Linked DNA regions of Homo sapiens. The protein of the gene in region 1 interacts with the protein of each later gene in a biochemical or structural test. Each region holds a gene or a part of one and is shown in the gene's direction. Other genes may lie near its edges.

Evidence for each region.
Region 2: the proteins of TFCP2 (region 1) and NOM1 form a complex in vitro, tested with the Homo sapiens proteins (one large-scale study listed by BioGRID).
Region 3: of the proteins of TFCP2 (region 1) and MAPK8, one has a biochemical effect on the other in vitro, tested with the Homo sapiens proteins (one study listed by BioGRID).

Annotation. Positions count from the first base shown.
Region 1 is NC_000012.12:51,117,574-51,121,224, reverse strand, and holds part of TFCP2 (alpha-globin transcription factor CP2), read left to right. Parts: intron 1-2,452; coding exon 2,453-2,604; intron 2,605-3,477; coding exon 3,478-3,554; intron 3,555-3,651.
Region 2 is NC_000007.14:156,959,561-156,963,211, forward strand, and holds part of NOM1 (nucleolar MIF4G domain-containing protein 1), read left to right. Parts: intron 1-290; coding exon 291-614; intron 615-2,590; coding exon 2,591-2,701; intron 2,702-3,447; coding exon 3,448-3,615; intron 3,616-3,651. UniProt on the Homo sapiens protein: Plays a role in targeting PPP1CA to the nucleolus.
Region 3 is NC_000010.11:48,435,673-48,440,007, forward strand, and holds the end of MAPK8 (mitogen-activated protein kinase 8), read left to right. Parts: 3' UTR 1-3,688; downstream 3,689-4,335. UniProt on the Homo sapiens protein: Serine/threonine-protein kinase involved in various processes such as cell proliferation, differentiation, migration, transformation and programmed cell death.

The DNA of each region.
Region 1 (3,651 bases):
GGTCTCAAACTCCTGACCTCAAGTGATCTGCCCCCCTTGGCCTCCCAAAGTGCTGGGATTACAGGCATGAGCCATACCGTGCCTAGCCAAGGGAATCTTAATTGTTTCTTTTATTTCATGTACCCTGTTCCTTTTCTTTTGTACCCAGAAGTACTCTGTGGCCTATATATATTTTTTCTTTTTTAAAAAAAACTTTACTGTGGAAAATTTCAAACATATACAAAGTAAACAGAATAATATGATGAACCCTCTTGTACTCATCACCTTGCTTTAACATGTTACTACTCTTTTTACCTTTTTTTTTTTTTTTTTTTTGAGACACAGTCTCGCTATGTCGCCCAGGCTGGAGTGCAGTGGCACAATCTCGGCTCAAGTGATTCTCGTGCCTCAGCCTCTGACATAGCTGGGATTACAGATGTGTGTCTCCACACCCATCTAATTTTTGTATTTTTATTAATAGTAGAGATGGGGTTTCACCATGTTGGCCAAGCTGGTCTTGAACTCCTGGCCTCAAGTGATCTGCCTGCCTTGGCCTCCCAAAGTGCTGGAATTACAGCCGTGAGCCACCACACCTAGCCCTCTTTTATTATTTTTACTTCTACCTATTCCCCATCCTCTAATCAATAATTTTTTTTTTAGGTAAAATTCATATACAATGAGATGCAAAAATAAGCTGTTACAGTTACAACCACGTAGCAGACCTATCATAGTATAATACATTTTTATCTCCCTACAAAGTTCCCTTATATACCTTCCAAGTCATCCCCTGCCCCACCAGGAAACCATTGTTCTCTTTGGCTCTGCCTGTTTTAGACTGTCATATAAACAGAACCATGCATTACACATTCTTTGTGTCCGGCTTTTTTTGTCGAGCATTATATCTGTGAGATTCATCCGTGTTGCATTCCTTTGTTTCACTGAGTAGTCCATTGTATGGATATACCATGGTTTGTACATCCGTTCTCTTACTCATGAACATTTAGGTTCTTTCCAGTTTTTATTTTTTTGTTGTTGTTGTTGTTCTTTTTTTTTTTTTTTTTTTTTTTTGAGACAGAGTCTTGCTTTGTTGCCCAGGCTGGAGTGCAGTGCCACGATCTCGGCTCACTGCACCTCTGCCTCCTGAGGTCAAGTGATTCTCCTGCCTCAGCCTCCCAAGTATCTGGGACCACAGGCATGCGCCACCACACCCAGCTAATTTTTGTAATTTTGGTAGAGACAGGGTTTCACCATGTTGGCCAGGCTGGTCTCAAACTCCTGACCTCAGGTGATCCACCCGCCTCGGCCTCCCGAAGTGCTGGGATTACAGGCGTGAGCACCTGGCCTAGTTTTTGCTTTTATGCTGTGAACATTTATAACAAGTCTTGGGTGGACTTACATTTTCATTTTTCTTGGATAAGTACCAATGGGTGGAATTGCTGGGTCAATAGATGCATGGTTAATTTAATTTAATTTTTTTAATTAATTTTTTTTTTTTGAGATGGAGTTTCGCCTTTGTTGCCCAGGCTGGAGTGCAGTGGCACCATCTCGGCTCACTACAACCTCCACCTCCCGGGTTCAAGCAGTTCTCCTGCCTCAGCCTCTTGAGTAGCTGGGATTACAGGCATGCGCCACCACTCCCAGCTAGGTTTGTATTTTTAGTAGAGACAGGGTTTCGCCATGTTGGTCAGGCGGGTTTCCACCTCCGGACCTCAGGTGATCCGCCCACCTCGGCCTCCCAAATTGCTGGGATTACAGGCATGAGCCACTGTGCCTGACTGCATGTTTAATTTTATAAAAAACTGCCAAACCTTTTCCTAAACTGTTTTATGTCATTGTACATTGCTACTGACAAAAGGATGAGAGTGTGGTTTTACATTCCCACTGACAAAGGATGGGTATGTGTCTTTGGTTTGCAAGTTTAGATAAACTGATAGATACAAAAAGCTTTTTCTTAGAGGAAATGGCTTGTAGGAACATCTCAATATTAGTTGTTATTCCACAGAATGTAAGATGACCTTGAAATATATACTCGTTATTGATTTGTCCTTTTCACGTGGCTTCTAAGGAATTGTAGAAGTTATTTTAGTCCTTATAGTAAATCAGCTGATATGGTTATATAGATAGTATAGTTGTTGCCTTTCTGAGAATGAAGACGTTACTGAATGTCCTAGATTTATACATTTTAGAACTCTGTTTATAATTTCCACAGTCCTTTTAGGAACCCCTGTCTATGATTCCTAGAAACATTCTCTTTAACACTTAGTGGTTTTAGCAGTGAATATCTGTCATCACCCACACTGTTGTGGTCAGGGGGATATCACAGCAGGTAATCTAAATGGAATTCTTGGGATGAAACTCCACCAAGGTGAGTAATGTTTATGGCTTTCCAAAGCATTGCAGTTAAATCATTCAGCAATAAACCTGCGTTTGCACCATTGCCAGGTATTAATGTGAGTCATTTGTTTTATTTTAGTGATGTCCTTGCATTGCCCATTTTTAAGCAAGAAGAGTCGAGTTTGCCTCCTGATAATGAGAATAAAATCCTGCCTTTTCAATATGTGCTTTGTGCTGCTACCTCTCCAGCAGTGAAACTCCATGATGAAACCCTAACGTATCTCAATCAAGGTTAGATGCTTCCTCATTCATTAGTACTATTGCAGACCTACTGTATTTATGATTTTTTTGTTTGTTTGTTTGTTTTGAGACGGCGTCACCCAGGCTGGAGTGTAGTGGCGCCATCTTGGCTCACTGCAAGCTCTGCCTCCCGGGTTCACACCATTCTCCTGCCTCAGCCTCCTGAGTAGCTGGGACCACAGGCACCCGCCACCACACCCGGCTAATTTTTTTGTATTTTTAGTAGAGATAGGGTTTCATCGTGTTAGCCAGGATGGTCTCGATCTCCTGACCTCATGATCCGCCTGCCTTGGCCTCCCAAAGTGCTGGGATTACAGGCGTGAGCCACCGTGCCCGGCCATTTATGATGTTTTATTAGGTACACTTATATGTAAAAACTTAGATCTTTCTAGTGTGGCCTATCAAACTAGAAGTCCTACTTCAGAGATTTGAGTTCTAATGTCATACTTGATATCTATTACTAGCTTCTTTTGCTTAGCTGTCCATTTTTAGTGTCCAGCTTCCTCTTCCTAATCATATTCCCTAGACACTCCCATTGGTTACTGTCTGAGAAGTATTACTCTACCTGGCTCTATTATTTACCAATTGTGTGGCCTTGGACAAGTTGCTAAAACTCTTTTAAGTTTCAATTTCTTTGTCTGTAAAATGGGATTGATAATACCTTAGAAAAGTATATCAGTTAAATGAGATAATGTGACAATACTTAGCACAGTGCTGAGCATCTTGTAAAGGCTTCTGATTGTTGTTACTAATACTAATAATATTATTATACTGTTGTATATTCAACCAACTGAATTTTATTCTTTCCGAATCTAGCAAAGTTAATTTGTGGTGAATATAATATGTAATTACTTTTTCTTCTAGGACAGTCTTATGAAATTCGAATGCTAGACAATAGGAAACTTGGAGAACTTCCAGAAATTAATGGCAAATTGGTGAAGGTAAAACGAATAAATCATTCTTCTGTACAATATTTTTTACTAATCCTTTTGGGATTTTAAATTTTGTTGTTGTTGTTAATGTTCTTTTGCTTCCAAT
Region 2 (3,651 bases), on another chromosome or scaffold:
AGACATAGGTGTGTTTTTAACATCATTTTTAACAGTTTTATTTTTCCAAGGAGTCAGAATGGCTGCTGGCCAAACAGTGCCCCTTGGTTGTTGATTTTAACAAGAGGAAGGTGCCCTTGCGTCCAGGCTGGGGCACTCTGGCCGGCTGCTCTGGGTTGCCGAGGGATGCCTTGTTGGAATGCCCTGCCTTGTGGCACTTTGTTAATTTAGAAAGTGCCAGTTCTGTGTGTTGAAGGAGAAAGGAAGGTTTCTAGGAATAACATAATCTTTTTTCTGTGTGGTTCTTTCAGGTCGGTGCCCACTTTCTGGAGGCAGTGGTGAGGAAGTTCGATGCCATCTATAAATACGGAAGCGAAGGGAAAGAGTGTGACAACCTGTTCACCGTCATTGCCCATTTATACAACTTCCACGTGGTACAGTCTCTCCTCATCTTCGACATTTTGAAAAAACTGATTGGAACTTTCACCGAAAAAGATATTGAACTGATCTTGTTAATGCTGAAAAACGTGGGTTTTTCATTGAGGAAAGATGATGCTTTATCACTTAAGGAATTGATCACTGAAGCCCAGACCAAAGCCAGCGGGGCAGGCAGCGAGTTTCAGGACCAGACCAGGGTACGCGTGCGACGCTTGATCTGCTTCCTAAGTCCCTAAAGCTCACAAACTGGCCAGAACCTAAAAATCAGTATCTGGGGTAAATATTACACTTGCTTTCCTAGTGATTTCTGTTTTTTCTGTCTCATCCTGTTTTCTGGCTTTAATATGTGAATGGACCTTATTCCTTTACCAGAAAAATATTTTGTGAATTTAAAAACTGATTTATTTAACATTCATCCGTTAAAAAATGCTTACCGAGGAGGCCACAGGACATGGGGCTCTAGGGTCAGCCTGGGTTGGACTTTGGGCTCTGCCACTTGACAGCAGCATAACCTGGGTCTTCTGAGCCTCAGTTTCCCCCTCTGTAAAACAGGGACTGATCACAGCTCCCACATTGTGTGCCGTTCAGATGATGAGATGTGTGGAACCGCGTGTTCCTGGGAAGCCGTTTGGGGAAGAACCCGAAAAGGGTTAGTTTGAGAGCCTGGAGGGGGCATCACAAGAGAAAAAGGCAGAGTTCAGGTCTCTGGTCCCTTGTTAATTACTGCAGGGAATTGAGGGTTTTATCCTAGAGGCATCTGAAGGGTTCCAGCAGGTGAATGACAGGTTGGAGTTTTCCTTCTGATGGTCACTTTGACTCCAAGGCAGAAAGAGGCATGAGGTGGTCGAAGTCAGGAGGAGTTTTGCAGGAGCTGGGGAGTAGGTGGTGGCAAATGTTGGGATCGTGGCAGTGGGTGTGGACATGGGCGTCAGAAGTGACCAGACCTCATGTGGATTGGGATGAAGGGAAGGAGGGCTCAGGGTCACCCATCAGGGGCACAGGGGACCGTGCAGGAGGAGATGAGGATTTAGGACAGGCACCTCCATTTTTGAAAGACTGGGTTAGCTGTGAACAGAGTGGGCTGAAGGGATATGGGGCTGCTCTCGTAGAGGGGGTCCTGGGAGCCATGGAAATGGGTGGACTTGCCTGGCAGCAGGTGGGCTGTGAAGAGGACCTTCAGGTTAAGGAGCACTGACGTCTAGCTGCAGGCAGGAGGGAGAGCTGGCAGGTGAGAAGGAAATGAGGATGGTCCCAGGAGCCAGGGAACACTAGTGTCCCCAGGAAGAATTCACGCCCGTGTGGGATGCTGAGGACCAGCAAGAGGAGGAAGGGATTTGCATTTTGGGCTGAATTGTGACGGCGGTCCTGACTGGCTTATCCTGGTCCCCGGAGAAGCCAGTCTGAAGAGGAGGGGGCTGGAGAAGGGAATGGGAGCAGCGGGCTCAATGGTGGTTTCAAATGGAGAAGAGACAGAAAGTACATTAGTGGGCTGGGGAGCTGGCTGGGGAGTTGGGGAAATGGGGAATGGTTGTTAATGGGCTTGGAGTTTCTCTTCTGGGGTGATGAGAAAGTTCTGAAATTGATTGTGGTGATAGTTGCACAACTCTGAATGTATTAAAAGCCACATAATTATATACCTTACATGAGTGAGTTTTATGCTATGTGAATTCTGTATCAGTAAGAAGTTGACATTTGGGGACATCTCAGAGGGTATGTGGGAATTCTTTGTGCTGTTCTTGCAACTTTTCTGTATGACATTACTTCCAGTTTTAAAGTTAAAAAAATTACAAGGCCAGTGGTAGGAGAGAGGATGTCCAGAGCAGGTCGCGGGGGGCCAGGGTGGGAGCAGGAGCGTAGTAGAGGCCGGGGTGGCCGAGTAGGTGTGGACGGTGCGGAAGGGTGAGGCGTGTGGCGAGCAGAAGGGAAAAGAGATCTCTGGGGAGTTTGGGTTCCCACTTGACGTTGGGGGACACATTTCCATTTTGAAGTATTATGTAGCCCTGAGTAAGCGGCTGAGACTAGTTTAGACTGTCTCTACCTAAAGGCTGTCCTGACTTTGTATCGTGGCGGTGGCGGCCATGTGCATCAGGTGTGGTAGATTTCTTGCCAACTTGAATGGGCCGTTTAGACTGTTTGAAATGATGGACTTTCCATTTTTTCATTTTTCTTGAAGATTCGGTTTATGCTAGAGACGATGTTGGCCCTGAAGAACAATGACATGCGCAAAATTCCAGGCTATGACCCCGAGCCCGTGGAGAAGCTGAGGAAACTGCAGAGAGCTTTGGTGAGTCAAGGAACTTTCAATTCTGTTTTGCTCAGAGCTTCCGTGTCGGCATGAGCCTGTCATGAAAATCAAGAAATAGTCAGACCTGCACGTCAGGGTGGTGTCTGGTGAGTGAGAGTGCTCAGAGGCAGAGTGAACGCGGCTCGGTTTTCCTCAGGGGCTGTCCCAGTGGTCTGGGCGTGCTCGTGCAGAATGTCCGTGTGTGGGGAAGCCCATGTTGGGCGAGCGTCCTCTTTGCCTCACCCCGGGTGCTAAACTTGGGCTGCACCATTGGATCATCCGATGCTTTCAGAGAAGGCCAAGTCCCCATCCGGACCAAGGAAATTGGGATGACGTAGGTCCTTTGACTCTCTCTGACATGCAGCCAGGATGGAGACTGGGGCAGCCTCCCTGTTGGAGTGAGTCTTTCAGCCCCTGTCATCTCAAGTCCAAATCATTGCTGACCCAGGCTCTTCCAGGCATGTGCTCACCTGCCACTGAGCCTGAGGCAGCTCTGTTACTCTCTCCTGTTGGGACAGCTTTCCAAACACAGCGTGTTTGGGGTGATGGACTCTCAAACACAAAACACTGAGTTTACCGCTAGTTTTGGCATTTTTCCAAACAGGCTAACCGTCCCAATTGCCAGTGACCCATTCCAGTATTCATGCACCAGAAATGTCATGGTCAAAAACAAAAAGCCACCGGTGATGGAAGGACGGAATATGAACCAATTAAAAGCATTTCATTAGCTCTTCTCTCTTCATCAGGTCCGCAACGCCGGCTCAGGTTCTGAGACGCAGCTTCGCGTCTCCTGGGACAGTGTCTTGAGTGCGGAGCAGACGGGTCGCTGGTGGATTGTGGGGTCCGCCTGGAGTGGGGCCCCGATGATCGACAACAGTCACCATACGCACCTGCAGAAGCAGCTTGTGGGGACGGTAGGGACACCCATGCTCAAGGCTGCCAGGCAGAGG
Region 3 (4,335 bases), on another chromosome or scaffold:
TGGCAGAATAACTCAGAGCATGTCTTTGAAGATGCTGGGCGTCTACCACCACCTTATGTCCCCACCCTACCCAACAAAAATAAGTAAAAAGAATATGGTGTATTCTACAAATTTGTGGCATGCTCAAAGTTTATGATCACATAAAGGCAAGAGGATACTTCATGAATAATACATTTCAATGCAAATAAACAGATGGTTCACTTCTACTAGCTATGAGCCTGTTTTTGTATACACTGAGTTAATCTACTCAGGCTGTAGGTCCCAGCAATGTTCTAGAGTCTGGTCTTTCCCTTTCCTGCAGCTTCGGGTCCTTGGACCTTTCCTGTTTCCTATTACTTGGAGTGTCTGTCAGTTGAGCACCAGTTGTTCTGGTGTTTCATTTGATTCTACTTGTAGCATAATCATTTATACGAGCTATTGGGAGGTTCCAAACCCTACCTAGATTTGTGTAGGTGATGTATCAAATGAGCAATATACCGTTCATCTGAAAATAGTAGCACACAGCCATATATAGGATATCATTTTCTAAGGACTGTTTCTTCACATTGAGCAGAGCAGGCATAAATGGTGGTTATTTAGTCTAAGTCTTTTATTTTTTTATACCTGATTTTCAACATAACACGCAATGTGGATGTCGAGTAGTGTTAAGAATGGTGCTGCTCCTGACAAGTGTATGTTAACTGTTTACATTTTCTATCTGTAGAATTATTTCTCTATTACTGAACTTTTCCTAAGTAAAATGTCTTTGAAGTCTCGTTATTTCTGAAATACGTTGTCTGTAATAGACCCAGGCACCTTTTAAATTATCTCTGGAACAAGAGGGATTTCATGTAATGAACTAGGAAATGCATACTCACATAAGCAACAAGGTTCTAGGCAGAAAGCCCCTTGGAATTTGTGACCAACAGGAGCAAGAACAGGTGCGGCTCAACATGCAATGTCTGAAAATTTGCTTGGCATTTTATTCATATATTTAGTGCAAAATTATTTTTGAGTGAGATATTTTACATCACTGTTAATGTGCAATATTTAAGATTAAAATACATTAGCTTTTTTATATACTTTGAAGTAGCAAGTTTGTTTTCGATGGCTTAGAGTCATGATTTCCAGCTTCCCAGCCTTTTTATCAGTCCCTTTTCTAATACAACAAGGTGCATTAATTTGATTAGGCAAATTAGAGTTCTAAGACACTTCTTGAATTGTAGACAGAAAATATTGGATTCACAATTTCAGCAGAAATTTGAGAATGAGTGTGTTTATATTAATTTCACAATTAGCTGTATTTTCTGTAGCATAGATTATGTCACTGTTGCACTTTCACAGCAGACATGCTTTCAGAAGGTTCTCATATTTTATGTTTGATTGCTGATAAGCCATCTCTATTGATACAGATTTTGGTTAAGTAAGGAAAACCAGGTGTGTGTCTGTATCATTTATTGTAAATGCCAGCTGCCACTTGCCAACCATCATGTTCAGTTCAATTCAAAGAAAACAAACTCTCATTACTTAGTGTAAACTAAAATACTTAACAAATTATATCCTAAAAACAAGGTCTCTTTGTTAAATGTTGCATGCCCTAGGTTTTAAATTACTACATCCAAATACAGTTTTCGTCTTAAATTTGTTAAGCTAAATATATGTTGGTTCTTTTTATTTTGGAATCCTTTAAGCATCTTAAACATTTTTTTTTTGAAGAGAAGTTACAAATAACATTTCTATCAGGTAGTACTTGTATGAAACCACCTTTCTTATTCTATAATTTTGATTTTTCAATTTTATATACTTAATATACTCACTGTCTTACTATCAGAAAGTTATTTTGACCAAGATTTTTATTATCTTCATAGATTCAGAAAGAGATGCTAATTCTGTACCAATGTCTTCCTGGTTACTATTCTCTTCCCTCTAATATATACTGGCCATTTGTAAAACCATTGTGTTGTTGGGATCACTTAGTTATACTATACGCAGATAGAGCATCTCAACTCTGTCATAGTGTTTGCTGAACAGTTTTCAGTGTCATGCACCTTTGGCTGCTAATTGTTCCTGACGTGCACTCTTCCGAGTTGGTAAAGGCACAGTGTGTTCATGCCAGACTTCTAAGAGAAACACCAGCCTCTTAAATCAGAAGCCTACACACAACCCCCTTAACAATCCAAAGAAGCTTGATGGTGTGCAAAGAAGCATCCTGCCAGCCTTGTCATTGTTCTGTTCTATGCTAATCCTGCTGTGTTGTCTAAAAGATGGAGGGAAGAGGACATCAGTGTCTGATAGTGAAATCATCAGCAGGAAAGTGAAGCTCTTTCCTTGGTTACAGATAAGACTTGGTTTACACTATTGGCCAGTATCTGCTAAACATATGAAGACTTAACTATTCAGTGTTGCCTAGGCATTCGCCTGCACAACATTTTGAGGTTAGAACATAGAATATTTTCAGAAATACTGTTGTAGTTTGTGAGTGTTGTTCATTAGTTACACATTAGCTATAGAGTGGATGCATGAAGCCCCATGACACCAGTAAACTTCTCTTACCAGTAGGTAAACCAAACACCATTCTGTCATTAGCAGCCCTCTTAAATGTTGCCTCTCCGTATCCTGTTGCATTTTTGTGTGCATTGTGTTTCTACTGATCTCTCTTAGGTTTTTACGGAATCAAAGGAAACTAATTTTTCCTTAATAGCAAGAAAGATGAAGAGGTAAAGGGCATTGAAGCAGAAATGTATAGTTTGGGGTACGATTAGAAAACTCGTAAGGAAAACAGAAGTCCTAATTTCAAACTGACTGCTCTTCGTTAAGTGCTCTTAAGGAGAGTCTAGTAACAGTAACACTTTCTGGCCATTTCTAGTTTAGATTCTCTTCGTTACTGAAACTTTTGAGAAATATTACCTGTGGATTAATTTTGCACAATGTTCTATTCTCATAATGACTTACAAATTAAACTAGGTTTTTATTGAACTACCTCACACTAATTTTCTATGCTTTCCCAAGTAAGCTGTTGCCCTGTTAGATCTTTACTGAGTGAATTATAAATGTGTGTTAAATACTTTCTAGCCAATGTTGACACAATACCAGTAAGTATGTAAAGTATATACCTTACATCAGTAAGAGACACGTGTAAAATCTTTGACTGTATGTCTTGCAAAATTGTGCTCGTTGACATTATTACTGTTTTTGTAAGTAGAAACCTGCTCGTGATATCGGTCCATTTACATTTTACAAAAGGAGTAAATCTTAGTAAAAATTTTACGAAGAAATAAATTACTTTTGTAGGCCCAATATTTGGTATATTTTTGAGAAGCTGTTAATCTTTTAGCTGAATAATGAAGTTAGACTGAATTACGTGTCTCCCTGGACTGTGACATCTATTTTCTCATTACAGTTTATCCTGGTCAGCAGGGTGTCACACCTGGAAACCTGAGTATGATAGCTGACATTTGCTTTTCTCCCTCTGCGATGTCATTCCTCCTCCATTCCTCTCCTTCCCTGTGTTCCGTTCCCTCTCCTTTCCTCTAGACAAAACAAAATGGGGCACTTTTTAGGGAATGCTGAGATCATTATTGTGGTTTTTCATCATTCATGCCCTAGTCATTAAACATGCACCACTGGAATGTAAACAATGTTATCTAGTATGTCAATTGGTTATAATATTTTAAATAAAAAAGAAAAAAGTGGTATGAAAATTATGAAATTAAGAGTTTTTTCATTGAAAACAAAATCTGTTTGTGGTAAAGTTTTTCTTGGCAATTTTAGGATTGTCCGTGGATTGGGATAAAAGGGGTCTTGCTAGGGCCGGTTTCTTAGATTTGGATTTTGTACAGATTGTAAAGAGCCTAAATGATCACGCTGATTATCTGGTTGATCTGGTCTTGGATTTCTGGTGTTTGAAATTGCTGGATAAACTTTATCTAAAAAAGGAACTTTGCTTCAATGCCCTTAACCTAGTTCTTGGTAGACATATGAGAGAACAGCCATCGTGACCACTTGGCAAAAATAAGTACTTAAAATTGGGGTCTGTTTCAAAACAAGCAAGAGGTTTTAGCTTTGACTGTTTCCAACTTTTGCCATGCTTATTTCCTCTTTGCCTACGTTGGGTCTGCTGCTGTGTGGGAATACAGGGTCCCTGCAGTACCTTCCCAGCCACTGTAATGACGCCACTCCGTCTTGCACAGTTCCTGCTCCAAATGACCTTTGTACCGTGCTGTCTGCCCTCACCTGAACTCACACTGCCCTCCTCTGAGGAGCGGAGAGGAAGGGGCTGATCTTTTAGCTGCCCGCTGCTGCTGGATCAGCTGCGTGGCAGCTGAGCTGTTTCATCACCGTCATAGAGAGGCCTCC